Linked DNA regions of Homo sapiens. The protein of the gene in region 2 purifies or fractionates together with the protein of the main gene of each other region. This does not show direct contact. Each region holds a gene or a part of one and is shown on either strand. Other genes may lie near its edges.

Region 1 (7,000 bases), on a different chromosome or scaffold from region 2:
TTAGCCAGGCGTGGTGGCAGGCACCTGTAATCACAGCTACTCAGGGGGCTGAGGCAGGAGAATCGCTTGAACCCAGGAGGCAGAGGTTGCAGTGAGCTGAGGTCACATGCCATTGCATTCCAGCCTGGGCAACAAGAGTGAAACTTCATCTCAAAAAAATGTGTGTATATATATATATATATATATATATATATATATATATATATATATATATTCTCAGAAAACAGCATGTCCTTTAATAATATAAGTTTCTTGTAGTTACAAAAGCCTATACTCAGCACCTAGAAACATAATGACCATCAGATTAATGTTAAACAACAGAAGAATGAATAAAACTCTCCTAGAGCAAGAAGACAGCAAAACAGAGTTGAAAGTACTCTGTAAATCATAAAGGGAGTAAAAACATAAGTATTATTACAATTATATTTTCTAAATTTTTTTGTTTTTTAAAGTAAACACTAAAAGCTAACTGGCATCATTAGATAAATAAAAATATTGGTATTCTATCATTATGTGCAAAAAAATGAGGGGGTTATGTTAACACAAGTATTTGTTTCTGAGAGTGAAATACTCACAGCTGTTTCTCCTTTTGGGAGATTTGTTTCTGCAGACTATCAGATTTACTGAGACATTCTTGTAGATATTTCTCATCCTCATCTTCAGCTTCCATTTGCGCCTTCTCTGCTTGCTGCAATCTGGTGTAATTCAAATCAACTTTGGGTAAAACTGAGGCTAGAACTAGGGTGTAAAAGGGTGAAGAAGACAAATAAAAGAAAAATGGGGAAATAGAAACATTTCTAAATGAAAACAAAGTTTGGGGGAAAACTCACAAACTCAAACGTGAAAGAGCCACACAATGTCTAGAAGTTGTTTTGTGATTTTTTTTTTTCAATATAACATGTAGTATGCCCAGAATACTATCTTCAAATTTGTTTTATTTCTTGTTCATAATTAACAGTGCAAAGCAATACAGCCTTTACCACTTATGCAGAGCATAACGAATCAAATTTCAAAGCATAATAGGTATGTTACTACCTTTTTACAAAACCATGAAAAGCAAAGGATTTATGCCTACACTAGGTGAAGAAGCCACACTGTTATATGTTATGCTAGGATGTGTATGCCAGGAATCAAGTGTGCTACAAGGCCAAGAGCAAAGACCTGCAATTACTCCAAATGATAGCCAAGTCCTTCTTACGGCATCTTTATGCATTTACTAAATTATGCCGAAGCTCTGTGTGTGTGTGTGTGTGCACGTGTGCATATATGTTTAAGATTCAAAAAGAATTTGGTGCCAGTTGGCATCATTTGCTAGAGATCATTTTTGTTCCTCACCATTTAATATTAAAAATTAGCTAAAACATTGTGATTTTCATCTTTCCTGTTTTTATTTGTAAGTCGTTGCATTTTCCTGTGCTTAGCTCCACTCCCTGCCTTCTTTGGCCATCTAGGATTTCTTGTATTTAACTTCAATATTTTTATAAGAAAATATTTACCAAGATTCAAAGGATATTAACTCCTTGCAGGAAATCACAAGAGAAATTTCGGTTCAACTAACTAAAAAACTCTTCCTCTTCCTTTCTTCCTTAAAACCATACCAATGGAGCAACCCTCACATATTTCAGGGGTATAAATGCTGCTTCCAAGGAAGGGAGAGTAACATTTAAGTTATCTCCAAATCCAAGTTTAAATTAAAATATTCAGGTGCTGGGATTGGACCCAAGCTTTTCTCTAAGGTTACAAAAAGGAAAATAGAAGTCAGAGTGAGGTAGGCCTTGAAGTTGTGCTATCACAGAAGAGGGCAAGGGAGAACCGGAAAACTGAGAAGCTGAAGCACAGGGTGTTGGCCAGTCTGGGTTATAAATTATTTTAAAGCATATGTAAAAATCTGTAAGGGAGCCATTGGGCAAAGAGTGGGCCAATGAGAAAAAAATATCTGTGCCAACACAGTATAAAACTGAAGGTTAAGTTATTTTTAAACAATCTTTATATTTTTCATCAAAAAGTAGCTAAAAAGATAAAACTGCATTTGAAAATCCTGACCTCCAAAGGGTCAATACTCAAATCACCCTTTGTGCACAAGGTTTGAGGAACGTATGTCTGGAAATCCAAGTGCACCCACTCTGCTTGATGGCAGTGTATTACCACAGCAGCTGACCAAGAAATGTACAGGGTTCCTAACATCCTTTTAGAATATTTAATAGCATTTAGATTCCTTTCTATTTAATATATTATAAAATTGTTGATTCTCTTTTCATTTAGTCTGTTTAAATACAAGTGGTCTTCAGAAAGATATATCTTTAACCAGCTTGTACTGGTCCTGCGTGTCACTGCTGGCACATTTCACCAATGACATTGCAATTGTCCTAGTTTGAGTTAACAAATCGTTGTCACTTCATAATGGAATGGAAAGAAATCAAAGACAGAAAAAGGTAATAAAAATGTCCAAAATGTAAAAATGGGGATAAAGAAAACAAAAAAGAAAAAAGAAGAAAGAGGATGTCAATAAAAGAATATTCATGTCAATAAAGCATTAATAGTTATGTTTTTCATAAGTAGATTCAAAGAAAGCAATGATAAAAGACATATGTTGACACCAACATGACAGGGCAATGGAAATACATTACATTTTCCAACAATAAAAGTGAAAAATGCCAATATAAAACAATTCAATTTAAACAAAATTATATCCTCGGTTGGGTTGAGGGTCCTAGCTCAAAGAAACAAAACTAAACCACCAATTCGGAATGCTTGATTTCAGATAAACAGATGGTGAATGGCAAAGAATATGACAATTAATATGCATGGAAATCAATCAGGGATAATCTCACTCTGTTTGTTCATTTTTAATTTTTTTGACATTTTTATTTGTGTATTTGTTTTATGTAACTGAACGACATGAAACTGCTGATATTAGGCCTCTAAGAAAAATCTACAATATGACAACTTCAAATGAATCAGCGTAATATAAAGCAACTTGATTCCATGCAACAACCAAAGCAAAAACGCAAAATCCTGCTGGGCTTAAACAAAAAACATGTCCTAATCTATGTCTTCCTAATGGTTTTTGTGGCAGGTGTAGGAACTGAATAAAGAAAAAGGGAAGAAGAAAAGAAAAAAAGAAACTAAGACTGGAAATGCTGTACCTTTGTTCCAGCTGCCTCATGGCTGCAGTAATTTTATTGGTTTTTTCTTCTAGTCGGGCAATTATTTCATTTTTTTCTTTCAAGCCATCTTCAGAACCCTATTTATAAAAACAAAAGCTATGGTGGTTTTGATTTGTGTGTGTGTGTTTGTGTGTGTGTGTGTGTGCGTGTTTTTAATAGATAGGGTATCACTATGCAGCCCAGGTTGGATTTGAACTTCTGGGCTCAAGCTATCCCACCTCTCAGCCTCCCAAGTAGAGTTCTGATCTGTTAACCTGAGTATTTATAAGTTTCTTACACCATTTTGCTATGGGACTGTTACTTTGAAATGAACAGAGTTACTTTATACATTAAAATAATTGTGTGATATAAAGCAGTGCTATTAGTCATTTTTTTTTTTTTTTGAGACAGTCTCACTCTGTCGCCCAGGCTGGAGTGCAGTGGCACCATCTCGCCTCACTGCAAGCTCCGCCTCTCAGGTTCACGCCATTCTCCTGCCTCAGCCTCCCAAGTAGCTGGGAATACAGGTGCCCGCCACTGCGCCCAGCTAATTTTTTTGTATTCTTAGTAGAGACAGGGTTTCACTGTGTTAGTCAGGATGGTCTCGATCTCCTGACCTTGTGATCTGCCCGCCTTGGCCTCCCAAAGTGCTGGGATTACAGGCATGAGCCACCGCACACGGCCCTTTTTTTTTTTTTTTAAGATGGGGTCTTGCTATGTTCACCAGGCTGGTCTCGAACTCCTGGCATCAAACAATCCTCCCATCTCGGCCTCCCTAAGTGCTAGGATTACAGCATGAGCCATGGCACCTGGCCTCTATTAGTCCTCATTTAAAATGTAATAGGCCGGGTGCAGTGGCTCTTTGGGAGGCCTTTGTAATCTCAGCTCTTTGGGAGGCCAAGGTGGGAGGATCGCTTGAGACCAGCCTGGGCAATATAGTGAGACCTCATCTCTACAGAAAACAAAAGAAAAAAAGAAAAAAAAATTAAAAAATAAAATGTAATAAAGGAAAAAAAAACTCCACCTTCAATATTTTTGGAAGATGACAGAATACACTCTTGTAAAATATGACATTTTTCAAATTAATTAAATTGTAAAGGGTTTTGGCAACATATCTACTTAATAGCAATATCATCGTACAAAACTCACAATTATGGGCCAGGCATGGTGGCTCACGCCTGTAATCTCAGCACTTTGGGAGGCCGAGGTGGGCGGATCACCTGAGGTCAGGAATTCGAAACCAGCCTGGCCAACATTGTGAAACCCCATCTCTACTAAAAATACAAAAATTAGCCGGGCGTATTGGTATATGCCCGTAGTCCCAACTACTAGGGAGGCTGAGGCAGGAGAATCGCTTGACCCTGGGAGGCAGAGGTTGCAGTGCGTCGAGATCTCACCACTGTACTCCAGCCTGGGCAACAGAGCGAGACTCCATCTCAAAAAAAAACAAAGAAAGAAAATTTACTATTTTGATAGTGTAGCATTTCAATCAAAATTAAATCTTTCTTAGAACTACACTGGAAAAGGAAGTTCACAAAAACGTTTTGCAGTTTAAATTGAGAGTTTTCCCAAAAGATTTAATCTTCATACTCTTAATCTTTCAACATTAAAAATTTAGACAGGTGATATTTTGTTTGTTGATACCTTTTTCATTACATTTCTTAAGCTTTCATTTAGAAAAAAAAAGACATTGGCCTTTATAATATTGCACAGTTAAAATAAAATGGGCTCATCTCTTAAAAACCAAAACCTTTCTACAAATATTCACTTTCAATTTACATAAAATGAAATTTAAGAACAATCCTTACCTGCAACTTTTGATACATCTCTATGTTAATTGCTTTAACTTCCTCTAGTTGTTGTCGAAGGCCTATCAGAGTATCTTGTTTCTCATGGATATCTTTCTCCAGCAACTTCATGGCAAGTTCAATCTCATGCTTCATACTAACTTGTACTGCTAGCTCATTCTCTACATCCTGCAATTTCAATGTATCCTCAATTCACATGCCACTTCAGGATGTAAAAATTAGATATACTTTAAGAAAGATTTTCCATTCAATATGCAGACTACACCTTTTAAGTCCACTAAAGGGAATCAACCAGGCCCTATAACAAGGCAATAAATATTTTGAAATGCAGGGCCAGGCGCAGTGGCTCATACCTGTAATCCCAGCACTTTGGGAGGCCAAGGTGGGTGGATCACTTGAGGTCAGGAGTTCAAGACCAGCCTGACCAACATGGTGAAACTCCGTCTCTACCAAAAATATACAAAAACTTAGCCAGGCATGGTGGCACACGCCTGTAGTCCCAGCTACCAGAGAGGCTGAGGTGAAAGAATCACTCGAACCCAGGAGGCAAAGGTTGCAGTGAGCTGAAATCACACCACTGCACTCCAGCGGGGGCAAGAGAGTAAGACTCTGTCTCAAAAAGTAAGTAAATATTTTCAAACGCAGTTTTTGTTAAAATGAAAGCATTTTCTATATTCTGTTAATCATTACTCTTTAACGGTCCAAGAATTAATCATTTTTATGCTTCATAGATTGAATATTAATTTTCCTTAAACAAAAGGAAATGAAGCAGTCTGTACATGTAAAGGCCAAAGTAACTCAAATAACAGTTTAATTTCCTTTTTTTTTTTTTTTTGAGACGGAGTCTCGCTCTGTTGCCCAGGCTGGAGTGCAGTGGCACCATCTTGGCCCACTGCAAGCTCCGCCTCCCAAGTTCATGCCATTCTCCTGCCTCAGCCTCCCGAGTAGGTGGGACCACAGGGGTCTGCCACTATGACTGGCTAATTTTTTTTTTTTTTGTATTTTTAGTACAGACAGGGTTTCACCATGTTAGCCAGGATGGTCTCGATCTCCTGACCTTGTGATCCACCAGCCTCCGCCTCCCAAAGTGCTGGGATTACAGGCGTGAGCCACCGTGCCCGGCCAACACAGTTTAATTTCTTAAGAATTTTTTATCAGAAGGATTAAAAAGTTTCTTATGATTTATTTTAAGAAATTTATTGGCCTGGTGCGGTGGCTCATGCAGGTAATCCCAGCACTTTAGGAGGCCAAGGTGGGCAGATCATGAGGTCAAGAGATCGAGACCATCCTGGCTAACATGGTGAAACTCCGTCTCTACTAAAAATACAAAAAATTAGCCGGGCGTGGTGGCGGGCGCCTATAGTCCCAGCTACTCGGGAGGCTGAGGCAGGAGAATGGCGTGAACCTGGGAGGCAGAGCTTGCAGTGAGCCGAGATGGCGCCACTGCACTCTAGCCTGGGCAACAGAGCGAGACTCTATCTCAAAAAAAAAAAAAAAGAAAAAAAAAAGAAATTTATTAGCATTCAAGACAAACAGAAAAGGTGATAAAAAGATGGGCAATATTCTCTTCTTGACCTGGGTGGAGGTTACGCAGGTTATTTGTGTTATAATTCATTAAGCTGTATATTCGTATTTTTCTGTTGGCATTATATTTCACAATTTCAAAGGTTAAAAAACAAGTTAATTTTAAATATGACTTTCCTAATATTTGAATATGTCATTCTGTTCTATTTCATTTTCTATAACGCTGGTCATAACCCATTCATTCACAATCATATACTGTAACTTACAGTTTAAAAAACACTGATACAGGTCAGGCACAGTGGCTTATGCCTATAATCACAGCACTTTGGGAGGCCAAGGCAGGTGGATCACTTGAGGCCAGGAGTTTGAGCCCAGCCTGGCCAACACGGCAAAGCCCCATCTCTATAAAAAATACAAAAGTTAGCCAGGCATGGTGGCACATGCCTGTAGTCCCAGCTACTTGGGAGGCTGAGGTACAAGAATTGCTTAAACCTGGAAGGCAGAGGCTGCAGTGAGCCAAGA
Region 2 (7,102 bases):
TTTTAGATAACAGATGGTCATGTGTCTATGGGCTTGTACCGGCAGAGGCAACAGCAGGTCCTTAAGACTCCCCAGGTGCCATGATGAAAAGAACCTTAGAAAATATTGAAATAAGCTCAAAACTTAAAAAAAAAAATACCAGAAATAAAAGCTAGTAAAGGTGAGAGGTGTGGGGCTTTTGGAACATAGAGCATAATAAATCAGAATAAAAAGTAAAAATAAGAAAGAGAAAAAAGTGGCCCTGATTAAATTATAAAATTAAGCATATCTTGAATTCTAACGAGCCAAACAAAAATTCTACTAGGCCAGTATAATAGGGCCTGCAGAGCCTGTCATGGGTTCAGGGTTTTCCCATAAAGATAGGTGTACCTCAGATACTACTCCTAGGTCCTGGCTTTAACCTCAAAGCCCCTCTGCCTGTCCTGCTCTGAAACCTCTGGGGCAGTAGGCATTGACTTCTGGGCTAGGGAGTAAATGTTCCGTGTCCTTATGTGAGCTTCCTATTACCCATTAGCATTGTTTTATGAAGTTTTCAATTTTATATCCTGCCTCATTTCAAAAAGATTGTGATAATCACTTTAGCAGATGATTTGCATTGCAGCAACTGTTCTCCCAGTCCTGGTTAGGATCTGTGCCTGAGGCCTTTTGTGGGGAGTTGGGGTGGGGGCCGGAGAACATCTCAATCTGATCTCAGGAGAGATAAAGACACAGGAGTGAGAACTGCCAGTTCCAAGGTTTCCGTGATGTTCCGGGAAGCCAGGAGAAGTGACATAGTGGAGAGCCGGCATGCTGGGAGCCTAGTGACTTGGATCTTAATCCTGTCTCACACTGATGGCTGTATGGCCTCCACATACTTCTGTGCCCAGGGTCAGAGTTCCCTCCTGCCGCCTGTTTCTAGTCAAGAGCTAGAAGAATAGCCAGCTTCTTTGGGTGGTGGCAAAGGGGATTGTTTATTTATAGTACAGATTCCTGCCCTCCCCCTTTGACCTCCTGAATCAGAATCTCTAGGGACACGGCCTGGAAGTTTGATTTTTTTTTTTTTTTTTTTGTTTTTGAGACAAGAGTCTTGCTCTGTCGCCCAGGCTGGAGTGCAGTGGCATGATCTCGGCTCACTGCAGTCTCTGCCTCCCGGGTTCAAGCAATTCTCCTGCCTCAGCCTCCTGAGTAGCTGGGATTACAGGCATGTGCCACCATGCCTGGCTAATTTTTGTGTTTTTTGTAGAGACGGGGTTTCACCATGTTGGTCAGGCTGGTCTCGAACTCCTGACCTCATGATTGCCCGCCTCGGCCTCCCAAAGTGCTGGGATTACAGGCGTGAGCCACAGCGCCCAGCTGAAAGTTTTTTTTTTAATGCTCATCTCTGAGTTGATTCTGACACTCAGCCACTTGTGGGAATTGCTGATCTGGACAATGCCTAGGGATCCTTCTAGCTAAAAAATTGAGACCCTATTTTTTGGATTTACAGGGCCTCCTCAGGAAGGGGCAGCCACTCTCAGGTCTGCTGTGTGTGCCCTACCATTCCTCCCACTATATCACAAACTGGCACCTAGAAACTGGTCTCCATGCCCAGTCGTTGCTGGGGCACCCTGTATGAAGCCCTGCTGGCTGGTATTCCTGTAGGACATATTCTCTGATGTCCAGGAGTCTGAGGTTCTACAGAATGCCCCTGGGGAAACAAGAGTGGCATTTAGACAACAGCATTCTGTAAACACAGTGCCAAGAGCTAAGGGAAAGAATGGGGGTGGGGGTGATCGGAGGGAAGACACGGATGGATTGGTAGGGGCCCTTTGGGTAGGAAGATCTCATGTGCAAGGCTGGAATGAACATGAGGTGCTGTTTCCTTCCTTTCTGGTGACTCGGCTGTGTGGGGAGCTGGGGATAGAGACCTGTCACCCAGAGGGTTCTTTCCCCAAAGCATAAACAGTCGTCTTTCTGTGAGTACAAAGTCCTTGAGGTTCAGGCCCAGATCTAAAGCAGAGCAGAGAACTTGGAACTTGGTAGCTACAAAAAAGTTTTGAAAATCTTGCTGGCATTTCTCTAATAGGCCATAGCCTCTGTAACAAGGATATTTGCCATCATATTGAAAATGATAAGAAAGGGGGAAAGAAAAGAAAGTGTACAGTGCTTTTGAGTACATAACCTAGACACTCTATGGAGGCTTTTTGTTGTTGTAGGGCTTTTGGTTTGTGTGCTTGGTTTTTTTGTGTGGCTTTAAATTTTGTTTTGTTTTGTTTGCCCTTTGTTTTTGCTTCCGCTTTGAGTCTCCCCCCCACCCTCAAAAGGAATAGAATTTTACTGGAAAATGAAAATATAGAAAAGTGAAGAAATCTTACCTGACCCAAAAGTATATCCTTAATATATACATCCTTCCAGTAATAGTAATAAAAAAAAAAAGCCTAATGGTTTTTAAAAGACACTTCCCTATAATTGAGAGATTTGTTATCCTATTACCCTCACCCTTCAATACACACACACACCAGAAACAACAGTCATCTGCCAGTAATTCCTAGCTGGGTCCATTTACCAGCTGTGCACTGATAATGATTTACTTTGTAGGCAGTACAGTTGTAAATGCTCTTCCTCTGATTTATTTCACATTTGCCCTGCTCCCTGCCTCCATCAACCAATTACTACATTTTTGTCAAGATAAAAGTGTATTTACATGTTTTTATAGAGTCCTTCACCGTGGTTGGAGATGCCCTACTCACCTCTCTTCCCAGATAAAACTTGGCATTTAAAATCTTACAAATCTAGGTGAGCAAAGAGCTGAAGGTTCTCAGATTCCTTTGATTAAAGACTATGACCACAGTTTCTAACTACATTTGCATTTCCAACTCTGTATTGTGGATCCATAAGCTGAGAACGTTGCTTTTATTAAAATTAGGTTGGTTTTACTCATCTTACTGAGCCCATACTCTGTGCAGAGAACTGTGAGTTCTCTGGATGTGAGCAGCTTACAGTTCAATGACAAAGACAGGGCTGTGTGTAGAGAAATTTGTTATCCTATTACCATGGGTCCCTAAGTGTGTATTGTAATTTCTAGAAAACTCCTAAGTGTTCTGAAAACCCCACCACCCCTTAGTGAACATACATTCAAAGTGGATGAGGATATTTTACCTGATTAGTAAATTCCATCTCCCACTTCCATGCACAATATTTAAACAGCCACCAGTGCAAGTGTGTATAATGGACCATCATAGTCTTATAAGTGTTCTGAGGCTCATAGCAACAATTTCTTATGACAGGAAAAAAATCATTGCCTCTCAAAGAAACCAACATTTTATTTCAGTGACAGATACCAAGTAAAAACAGTACTTGTATTATTTTTCTTTTTAGGAGTTTGATACTTTTCTTGTATTAACCTTGACTTCAAAGAAAAATCATAGGCTTACATCAAAAACACTTGGGAAATTTGTCTTGGCTCTGTTCCAATGAGGCCAGTTATTCTAAAAGGGGTTACTGGATTGTGTTGGGCCTTCATGTGGTGTGTATTTTAGAACCACTGAATTTTAAACTATTTAAGTTCCTTTGTAAGGATCCTATGATAAAGTGGCTTGAAGGAAAGAGTTGAGTGAAACTCTTGAGTCCGATTTCTGGCTGTACTGCTATTGTCTTACATGGCTGAGCCTGGGTAAGTCTTGTCTCAGTTCACACTTCAGGCCCCCAGTGAGTGAGGTGGCCGTGATGACGCTCTTGTTTAACAGGCAAGTAAAGCCAGGGTGTTGAACTCTACGGAAGTGGGCCGGGCGCAGTGGCTCACGCCTGTAATCCCAGCACTTTGAGAGGCCAAGGCAGGTGGATAAGGAGGTCAGGAGATTGAGACCATCCTGGCTAACACGGTGAAACCCCGTCTCTACTAAAAATACAAAAAAATTAGCCGGGCGTTGTGGCGGGCGCCTGTAGTCCCAACTACTCGGGAGGCTGAGGCAGGAGAATGGCGTGAATCCAGGAGGCGGAGTTTGCAGTGAGCTGAGATCGTGCCACTGCACCCCAGCCTGGGTGATAGAGCGAGACCCTGTCTCAAAAACAAAACAAAACAAAACAAAAAAATCTACGGAAGAAAGGAACCATGTGAAAGAGCGTTTGCTAATGATCTGTCTGTCTGATGAGAATTGTGTGTATAGATTTGTGTATACACAAATATGGATGTTCACTGTATAAATCAATGTGTAAATGTGTCCGAGAACTCCAGAGTTGATGAGGGCTTGTAATGCACTTAAAGGTAGCTCACCACAAGACAGTCTTCCTATCTGAAATCAGCATTGCAGTCCCAGCCATTTCCTGAAGCTACCACCCTCACTTTCTCCCCAACTCTGAAATGCTTTTCACTCTCTACCTAGGCTGAAGCCGACGTAGCTTCTCTGAACAGACGCATCCAGCTGGTTGAGGAAGAGTTGGATCGTGCCCAGGAGCGTCTGGCAACAGCTTTGCAGAAGCTGGAGGAAGCTGAGAAGGCAGCAGATGAGAGTGAGAGGTGAGAATGCCTCATCAGCCATCTTTTGCAGCTGCCTTTCCTGGTGGAATAAACCGGAGGGCTCCTGTGATCTTTGAGGTTTAAGAATTTTTCAGTCCCCTGGTGGTGGGATCATTTCCTCTATTGATCCCAGGTATAACTCGGTTGGTTTTGTTCATTTAGCATTAGTGAAACACCTACTATGTCCAAAGCACTGTCCTAAGCCCTAAGGTTACAAAGAAGAAGATGATCTTGTTCCTGCCCTTACAGAACTCACCATCTAATGAGGGAGACAGACATGTAAAGGAGAAATGTCAGGGATACAAGTTGGCCCTTTCACTCCTACTGACCACAGAGCAATTGTGCATTTTTTAAAGTGTAACTTTATTTTATAATATACAAGGAGGCTTAGGTGTAAATAAAGGAACTGTGGACTATCAGTTGTCAAAATAGCTTAACAAATAGGTGGAAGAAAAAACACAAAGCAGAAACATGGTCTGCAAAAGTAAAATATTTTGGACTTGGTCTTAGTAATATACACAACACACATGCACACAAATAGTCAGATGCTCGTGTGTTCTGAGCCCACCTCCACTGTAATCTGGCTGTAGCTGAATTATTACTCAGATTCAGCTTTGTGGTAGTAAAGGAAAGCATGGTTCGTATAGACCAGCACAGCCTTGTGTGGTCTAAAAGGCATTTTCCCTTAAGCTCAACTGTTGGAAGTAAGGATTTGCCATATTGCATAGAAGTACTTCAAGAGAGACTCCATGAGGTGAGAGAGCGTTCTGCCGCTTGAGGGATGGCATAGCATGAAGGGGCTCAGAGCACTGAATGTGTATCTGTCTGTGCTGTGACCTGGGCAAGTGAATGCAGTCAGTCATCTTGTCCATTTCTTACTCTTTGAAGTGACCCTACCACTAGGTACCAGGTATAAAGAGTGATTTCAGACTTTAGGATTAAAGAAGATTTTTAGCTAAACTTTTTAGGCCATTATTCACCGCTGCTTAGTGTTTCTTCGCTAACCAAGCATTTTGGACTTCTTTAAGATGACTAAGCATCTTACAGTGTACGCATAAGAGCAGTTTTGTGGCTGACTTCTTTCTGAAATATACTTGTTAGTGTACCTTAAAGGCAGTCTGGTAATGTTAGACTTCGGAGTAAAGGGGACTTGGGGATCATTTAGTCCCTTAGTTTTACAAATGAGAAAAGTAGGGCTCAGAGGCTGATGTGACTTGCACCAAGGCTCACAGCATATTTGTGGCTAAGCCAAGACTCCGACCCAGATCTCCTCAACTGTATTCCAATGCTTCATCAAAAGATAGTGGGCCAGATGTGGTGGCTCACACCTGTAATCCCAGCACTTTAGGGGGCCGAGGCGGGCAGATCACTTGAGGCCAGGGATTCGAGACCAGCCTGGCTAACGTGGCATAACCCCTAAATCTACTAAAAAATAGAAAACTTAGCCAGGCGTGGTGGTGCACACCTGTAATCCCAGCTACTCGGGAGGCTGAGGCAGAAGAATCGCTTGAACCCAGTAGGTGGAGGTTGCAGTGAGCCAAGATCACACCACCGCACTCCAACCTGGGTGACAGAGCGAGACTCTGTCTCAAAAAATAAAAATAAAAAAATAGTGGTTCACTTATACTGCCTACTTAAATTTTGATAAATGAATTCCATTTTACATGACTTGTTATTCCATATATCTGTAAAATATCATAGGTCATTTAGTATTTTTCTGAAACATTACACCACGCTATAGGACCCTAATATACACCATGCCATAGGACCCTAATACACTCAGTGTAGAGGACAGTGTCAGGCCTGTCTCCCAGCATTGCTGTCATGAAAGGGTTCCATTATAGGTAAAACTTAATTTGATGCATTCAGTTGAACCATAAGAAATTGCCATTATTACTTGTCTGAAATGGTCAAATATCAGCATTCTTTGTGGACTTAATAGTTTATTAAATCTAACATTAAGTCTAATATTTTTGTTTATGGGTGGCAGGGTAAGAAGATTCTTTGTAGAAAGAGGTATATAAAGATAAGTTTGATTTTGTTCTAGCTTTGGTTCATGTGCAAGCTGAGGCTTCCCACAGGAAAGGCAAGAAATCTCATTATCTTTTTAATAGTAAAGCATATTGGCTTTTCCGGTTTCATACTGCCAAGATTCAGACAGATTCCTGACGTGGTACCTTTCGTCATCATTAATGTTAGATGCCTGATAGTTTCATCAGTACTCAAAGTGAGAGAGTTCATTCACAGTGAACAGAGAGAAATGTGTCTCTTTTTTCCACCTTTAGCTCTGGAAATTGTTGTTTCCTGGTTTGGAAAATAAAAGTAGCTCTGTGCTCTATTTTGGTCTACCACTTACACTAAGCCTCACAAGCCACAGCAGTGCAGTGTGCATTTGGGAAGTTCAGCTCTAAATCTTGGGTTTTCTTGCTTGTCTTTCTTTTCAGAGGCATGAAAGTCATTGAGAGTCGAGCCCAAAAAGATGAAGAAAAAATGGAAATTCAGGAGATCCAACTGAAAGAGGCCAAGCACATTGCTGAAGATGCCGACCGCAAATATGAAGAGGTCAGATCCTGGGGCCCAAAGCCTTGTGGACACCCAGCAGTGGCCTTCAGGAAGCCAGGGAGCAAT
Region 3 (7,000 bases), on a different chromosome or scaffold from region 2:
AGGGCGTTGGTAGGTGGGACTGTTGACGCCATCCCTGGGAGAGAAGAAAGTCGGCTGTGGCAGGGACTGGTCCCAGAGTGAGCCTAGGCACTGCATCAGTTTGAGTGGCTGGTTAGCCTGGACCCTGGGCAGGTATGGGGCGGCCCATCCTGCCCAGCCACAGGAAGCTCTAGGCCACCTGGATTTGCAGGTCCTCGTCCTCGTCCAGGTCACTGGTTCCATCCTCGGCCTCCTCGGTGCCAAAGCGAGCACTGCGGATCTTCCCGAAGAGGGGAGCGTTCTGCTGCTGCCTGCGGAGCCTGTGGGGTGGGGGTGACAGGAGGTTAGAGCAGCCTGGCTGGTAGTCCCCCGATAAGGTGGCTGCAGCTGGTGCTGGAGCAGTTAAGCCTTCCCTGGTGCTTTCCCTGCTGTCTCATCTCCTGTAATCTCCTTATATGATAGAAGTGCCATTATCACCCCCATTTTACAAGCAAGGAAACCGAGGCACAGAAAGGTGAAGTCATTTGCTCAAAGTCACACAGATGGTGGGGAGTGGGGCAGAGCTCTGAACTGAAGTGGGTGGTGCCAGAGCAGCTGGGCGGTTAGAGAGGTGAAGGAGCTGGCTCAAGGTCATGCTGCAGGATTTGAACCCAAGCCTGGCTCTCAGAGCACAGGCAGCAGAGTTGGTTGGTGTGACAGTGCAGGGTGGGCTGAGCCCTCTACATTCCCAGTGTCAGTGAGAAAGGGCTCAGCCCTAGTTCTTCCTCACATTAAAATTCCTAAAGTCAAAATTTACGAGGAAAACTTTGAGTCTAAGAAGAGCTGGTGAAGGAAATGCCGATCCCTCCCCCAACCCCCCAGCAAAGTGGCCGCCCCGGCTGCATCTTACTGGAAGACATGAATTATTAACACGTAAGGGAGGGGCACAGGCGGGGGCCTCCATTACTGCACAGTGATTTAGTGAGCTGTCCCCGGAACATTAAAGCACAAAAAGTTGGAAAATAAAACGACACAGCGGTCCTGGGTGGCCCCACCCTCCCCGATGGAAGCACTTGAGAGGCCCAGCAGGGCCTGCCTGCCCACTTCTGGAGTTTATGGCTCCTGAACAATGTGACCCAGACTGCGGGAAAGCCCCAAGGCTAAGTGGTCTTTTGAAGGGTGTGTGCTGCAGGGTCAGAGCAGGCAGAGCCAGCCAGGCATGGGTCCTGACTTGGGCCCACGCCTGGGCCCCTGCACAACACTTTATGGGCGTCATCCCAGGCAGATGGGGAAATCGAGGCTCAGTTTACCATGGCACAATAGCTGTTAGGTCTCTGCAGCCCATTCTCTAAGCCACAAGATCTCAGCAAACAGCAGCATATAGTAAATGCTCAATAAATAAGGGCTTGGATGGCTGATGGCCAGGGGTGATTCTGCCTGGCCACCCACCAACTGTGTGGCCATGGAAAGACTTACCCTCTTGGGCCTTAGTTTCCTCATCTGCCAGCCCCCTAGGAAAAAACATCTTTCCTTTCTCTCATAGAAGCAGCGTGATGCTGATGCACAACATGTAACCCAAATATAAGCCCCTCCGCAGCGGTAGTAGTAACAGTAGTAATAGCAGCAGCTGCTGACAATCACTCAGCATTTATTATGTGCCAGGTGTTTTCTTTCTTTTTTTCTTAGAGACGGGATCTCACTTTGTCTCCCAGGCTGGAGTACCGTGGTGTGATCACAGCTCACTACTATAGCTATGAACTCCTGAGCTCAAGTGATCCTCCTGCCTCGGTCTCCCAAGTAGCTGGAACTACAGGCACACACCACCATGCCTGGCTAAGTTTTGTATTTTTTGTAGACATGGGGGTCTTGCTTTGTTGCCCAGGGGGTCTCAAACTCCTGGTCTCAAGCAATCCTCTTGCCCTGGCCTTCCAAACTGTTGGGATTACAGGTGTGAGCTACCATGCCTCCAGGTACTTTCTTAAGAATGGATCAGCTCATTTAATACTCACAACAATCAAGAGGTAAGAACTATCATCATCCCCATTTTACAGATGAAGAAACTGACACAGAGAGGTTAAATAAATGTCCCAAGGCCACACAGCTGCTAATGCTGAGCCAGGCTTCAGACCATTCAGGCAGTCTGGCTGCAGAACCGGGCACCCTCTATTCCACGAAAGAAGAGAATGCAACTAAGTGCATTCTCAGGGCCCGGCACAGGTCAATGCTGTGGCTCCGATGCTCCTTGGGCCTCCCAGCTGTGAAGTGGGAGGGACGTGGACTGAAGTTTTCTGATATCGCCTGGTTCTGTGATTCACAGAGTGCTGGGACAGAGACAGGGTTGGGAGAGGGAGGCAGAGTGTGCTGGGTGGGGCCTGTTGGCAGTGGACGGGATCCAGGCCTGGGGCCCCTCCACGAGTCCCTGCTCACCAGTCTCTCAGATCCCTGCTGTCTTGGTGTCACCTGGGCCCAGTAACGCTGAGGGCTGCCTATTTGAGCCCTGCTGGCCCCACCCACTGCCCCAAGCCTTGGGCCTGACCTCTCCAGCCCGCCCTTCCTGCCCTCACTCTACCCACCAGCCCTCCTGCTAGAGGAGACAATTCCAGGGCCTGCAGCTGGCCTGACTTCCTGCACCCCCTGCCCTGGTTTCCTGGCTCTGGCCCTTCCTGCCCGGAGGGGACAGGATTCTGGCTCCAGGCACCTGGATCTCTTCCTTCGTCTCCCCCTCCAGCCTTGGTTTGGGCTCCGTCCCTGACCGGAGGGTTCCCTGGCTGGAAGTCTCTGCCCTGTTTCTGTTCCCTGCCCGGGGCCCACCTGGACTGCAGGTGCTCCAGTTGCACTTGCAGGTTCTCGCTCTGCTCCGTCTGCTCGTCCAGCGACCGCTGCAGCTTACGTGCCTGGTTGTGGGCCTCGTCCAGCTGTGGGGGTGAGCAGGGCCGAAAGCACGAGGGTCACCCAGGGCTGGGCAAGGCCGGCCACCCGCCCAGGGAAAACCACTCCTGCTGTTCCCTGGGAAGGTGCTCCTCCGAGAGTGTTTGCTCCTTGAGGCCTAGGCTAAGGCTTACCTCTTCTAGAAAAGCATCCCTTTGGTTCCTCTCCATCCCCTTTGCCTCCTCTTGCACATCTACCCATCCTCCCAGGCCCTGCACTACTGATGCAGCCATCCACCTCCTATCCTTCTGTCCCCATCAGTCTGTCCATCGGACCATTCGTCCAGGGAGATATTCATCTGCCCATGGAGACAGTCACCCACCACTCCCCATCCATTAATCTAATCAGCAGCCCATCTAGCATGCCTAGCCATGCCTTCCTGCTCTCCCGGACACACCTATCTTCCCGTCAACCTGGCCTTCTTTCTCCCTCTGTATTCGTTCTTCCACCCACTGACCCAGTCAGCTGTCCATCCATCTGTCCACTCTCTACCCATCCAGCCATCATCTGTTCATACATCCATTGGATCCACCCATCCATCTGCCCGCCCTGCCTCTCTCTCCCATTCATCCATCCATTCATTCCTTTACCCATTGGTTCATCCATGCACACATCCATCTTGTCTTCTGTTCATTTTTCTTCCCATCTTCCCACCCACATGTCCATCCTGCCATCCATTCATCACGCACCTACCCACTCTATCCTGGGCGACTCCTGAGAGACAGGCTTGTGCCAGGCACCAGGGGCTGAGAATGGAGAAGCCAGGATGGCCCTGCGGCCCCCACTCCTCCCTGGCCAAGGTCTGTTGCTGCCCCTGCCCCTCTGTGGTCCTCACCTCGTCCTCAGCCTGGGCCAGCTCCTTCTTGAGCTCCTCCACCCGCAGCCGCAGCTTCTTCACCTCAGCCTCGTGCTGCTCCACCCGCCGGTTGGCATGTGCCAGCTCTGCCACCTTCTCCTGGAACTGCTTCTTCAGCTTGCCATGCACATGCTTCAGGTCTGCCAGCTCCTACAGGGCACAGGGATGGGGTGGGAGGGAGGAGGGAATCAGTATCAGCTTGGGCGCCATGCCAGGGAGTCCCACGAGGTCAGGCAGTTCTAGGGATGCTGGGTGTCTCTCCTTCCCAGAATCTCTCCATCTGTTGTCTGAAGTATCAGCAGTAGAGGTTTGGCTGAGCAGCCAGAGGCTGGAGGTGCCTTCCAGGGAGGTGAGAAGGCTGGGTGGGTGGAACCTGTGGCTCCGGTTTGGATGTGTAACTTTCAGATGCTACTGGATCTACCCTGGAGCTGTTGGAGCAGGGTCGGGGTTTCCGGGGAAGGATGAGGTCTGGAGTCTTCAGGGGCGTATGGCATTGAAAGAGCTGGGTTGGGAATGAGCTAGGCTGGGGAATGGGTGGGTGTCTCAGAGCCCAGAGTGGCTGGGAAGAGGAAGGGCAGCCAGCAAAAGAGATGCCCACCCTGGAGCTCTGTGAGTTCTCTAAGCCTCAGTTTCCATTTCTGTAAAATGGGAATAGGCATTGCCTAAAGGTCTCTTGAGTCCATCCTTTTTGTTCCATCTCTACTGACTGCAACCTGGTCCAGGTCTCCTCCCTCTCTTGTTGTCCAGGGAATGTCAACAGCTTCCCCCCAGCCTGTCTTCCCATCCTCTGCCCACACAGCCTGCTCACACTCCCCTCCTGCTTTAAACTCTCTCGAAGAGTCCCACCACTCGTGCCTCACTTACCACATCCCCCCGCTCACTCCCCTCCAGCACACTGGACTTGTTCCTCCAAAGCTCTGTGTCTCTTTCACCACGGACATTTATTCATGTTATTCCTAACTTCTCTCCATCCCCTCCCCTAAATCCGCACACTACCAGTTAACGGCTGCTTTTCCTGGAGAACTCAGTTTATTTATTTATTATTATTTTTTTGAGACGGAGTTTCTCTGTCACCCAGGCTGGGGTGCAGTGGTGCAATCTCAGCTCAGTGCAACCTCTGCCTCCCGGTTTCAAGTGATTCTCCTGCCTCAGCCACCCGAGTAGCTGGGATTACAGGTGCCCACAATGCTCGGCTAATTTTTGTATTTTTAGTAGATATGGGGTTTCGCCATGTTAGCCAGGCTGGTCCCAAAATGCTGACCTCAGGTGATCTGCCCACCCCAGCCTCCCAAAGTGCTGAGATTACAGATGTGTGCCACTGCGCCTGGCTGAGAACTCAGTTTAAAATGTCACTGCCTCCGGGAGGTATTTCCAGGACCGTGGGCCTAAGCCAGGTCTCCTAGTATCCCCTCTTCTTGCTGGTGACCATGAAGCTGTGTGATTGGCATGAATCTGTGTGACAGAGAGAGCCATGTGTACATCCCCCAAGTAAGTCTTCAGCTCCATGAGGGGAAGAGGGGAGGCCACATCTGTCTGTTCAGTGCTGTGTCTCTGGCACCTAGAGTGGAGCTTGGCACATAGTAAGTGCTCAATGAATGCGGCTACTATAATTACCAACTGGTCTAGCACACAAGGTGCTGAATACATGCAGCTACCATAATTATCACCAGGCCTGACACATAGTAGGGAAGCTGCGCTCTGGCTGGATGGGGAGGTGGCAGCCCCAGCACTGGCCACTCCACTCCTTGCCCCACCTTGTTCTTCTCGAAGAGCGCGGCCTGGCTGGCCCTCAGGTCGCAGTCCAGTGCGCTGGCTGTTTGCCGCCGCCGCCGGGCCAGCGCCTCCTCCAGGTCTCCGACCTGTGCCCGCAGCTTCTTGTTCTCCCGCTCAAGGCCCAGTTTCTCTGTCTCCAGCCGCTCCCGGCGGCCCCACTCCGCAGCGTTTTCGGCCTGCAGCCGCTCCATCTGCAGCAGGGCAGGGCAGAGTGAGGACTCCCAGCGGAGGGGGCATGCAGGGCCTGAGCTGGATGCCCCCGCCACCTCCTGGAGCCATTTTTGGCTCCAGGAAGCAGATCCAGCTGCATTGGCTGTAATTAAGCTGGGCTCATTTCATGGTGTACAGGATGTGAGGGCGCTTCTGGCCTCTGTGTGGGAGAGAGGCCTGCCTCTTGCAGATCAGGACACCATTGGATGTGGCTGGCCCCGCTCAGAGCACAGTCCTGGCCCCTGCCCTGTTCCCAGTGACCTGCTGATGGAGCAGGGCCCCAGGACCCCTAAACCCAGGTCCTCCTGGGTCCCATCCATGGCCTCACCTCGCCCCTCAGCTCGGCCATTTTCCGGTCCATGCTGGAGCGTGCACCGAGCTCATCTTCCAGGTCCTCAGACATGCGGCCCAGCTCGTCCTGGTGCGCCTCCTTCAGGATGCTGAGCTGCAGGGATAAGGCCCCACCTGGTCATGAGAACCACCAGGATATAGCCTGGAACCACCTCCGGGGGTGGGCGCCAGTGCAGGAGTGCTCAGCGTGGAGCCAAGGCAGCGCCCAAATGGGGCAGGCACCAGGTATTCCAAACAGACCTCGAATCTGACCACTTCTGCTCCTCCCAATGTCTCTCCTCCTCATTACTGTCTAGCCTCCCAGTGTCTACTCCTGGCCCTTCTCTGTCAACCCGTTTTCTACAACAGCAGCCCAGAGGGAGCTTTTAACAAAGATGAATGCAATCATACCACCCTCCTCCCACAAAGCCTCTGATGGCTCCCAGGTGCCTTAGGGTAAAGTCCAACTCCTCTCTACGCTCTCACAAAGCCCTGCACGATTGGACACCTACCCGCCGCTCCCCCTTAGTTCACTGTACTCCAGGCACCAGGGACTCCTTTCTGTTCCTCAGACACACCAAGTTCCTGCCCACCACAGGGCCTTTGCACATGCGTGGATCTTTCTGAGACACTTCTTAGGACTGATTTTTCTTATTCTCAGGCCTTGACCTAAAGGCCCCCTCCTTAGGAATGCCTCTTCTGCCCACCTGGCCTGGAGGAGGGGCCTCCTCATCCCACTCCCCACTGGAAAGCTAGCCTGGGAGGACGGGGAGCTTGTGCGTCTGTCCACCTTTGTGTCGTTGTATGGCCTGGGCACAGGGCCGCCCTCAGTGTACAGTGACTAATTCCAACACTGCTCTGCACACAGGTGCATCGGCATTGCTTGGCGTGCATTTAAGACAATAACATTTCTTGCGGTATACAGCAAACCCCAACAAACTGCTG

Evidence for each region. Proteins that work in one complex are often made in the same cells at the same time.
Region 1: the proteins of TPM1 (region 2) and RUFY2 purify together in Homo sapiens (affinity purification with mass spectrometry; 3 studies listed by BioGRID and IntAct, with this or other methods). This does not show direct contact.
Region 3: the proteins of TPM1 (region 2) and CCDC102A purify together in Homo sapiens (affinity purification with mass spectrometry; 3 studies listed by BioGRID and IntAct, with this or other methods). This does not show direct contact.

What each region holds. Positions count from the first base shown.
Region 1 is NC_000010.11:68,376,278-68,383,277, forward strand, and holds part of RUFY2 (RUN and FYVE domain-containing protein 2), read right to left. Parts: intron 5,123-7,000; coding exon 4,955-5,122; intron 3,245-4,954; coding exon 3,147-3,244; intron 2,394-3,146; coding exon of another isoform or gene 2,285-2,393; exon of another isoform or gene 916-2,284; intron 739-915; coding exon of another isoform or gene 711-738; exon of another isoform or gene 696-710; coding exon 576-695; intron 1-575.
Region 2 is NC_000015.10:63,052,645-63,059,746, forward strand, and holds part of TPM1 (tropomyosin alpha-1 chain), read left to right. Parts: intron 1-4,340; coding exon 4,341-4,474; intron 4,475-6,918; coding exon 6,919-7,036; intron 7,037-7,102. UniProt on the Homo sapiens protein: Binds to actin filaments in muscle and non-muscle cells. Plays a central role, in association with the troponin complex, in the calcium dependent regulation of vertebrate striated muscle contraction.
Region 3 is NC_000016.10:57,512,572-57,519,571, forward strand, and holds part of CCDC102A (coiled-coil domain-containing protein 102A), read right to left. Parts: intron 6,171-7,000; coding exon 6,054-6,170; intron 5,707-6,053; coding exon 5,497-5,706; intron 3,893-5,496; coding exon 3,722-3,892; intron 2,874-3,721; coding exon 2,770-2,873; intron 300-2,769; coding exon 170-299; 3' UTR 1-169.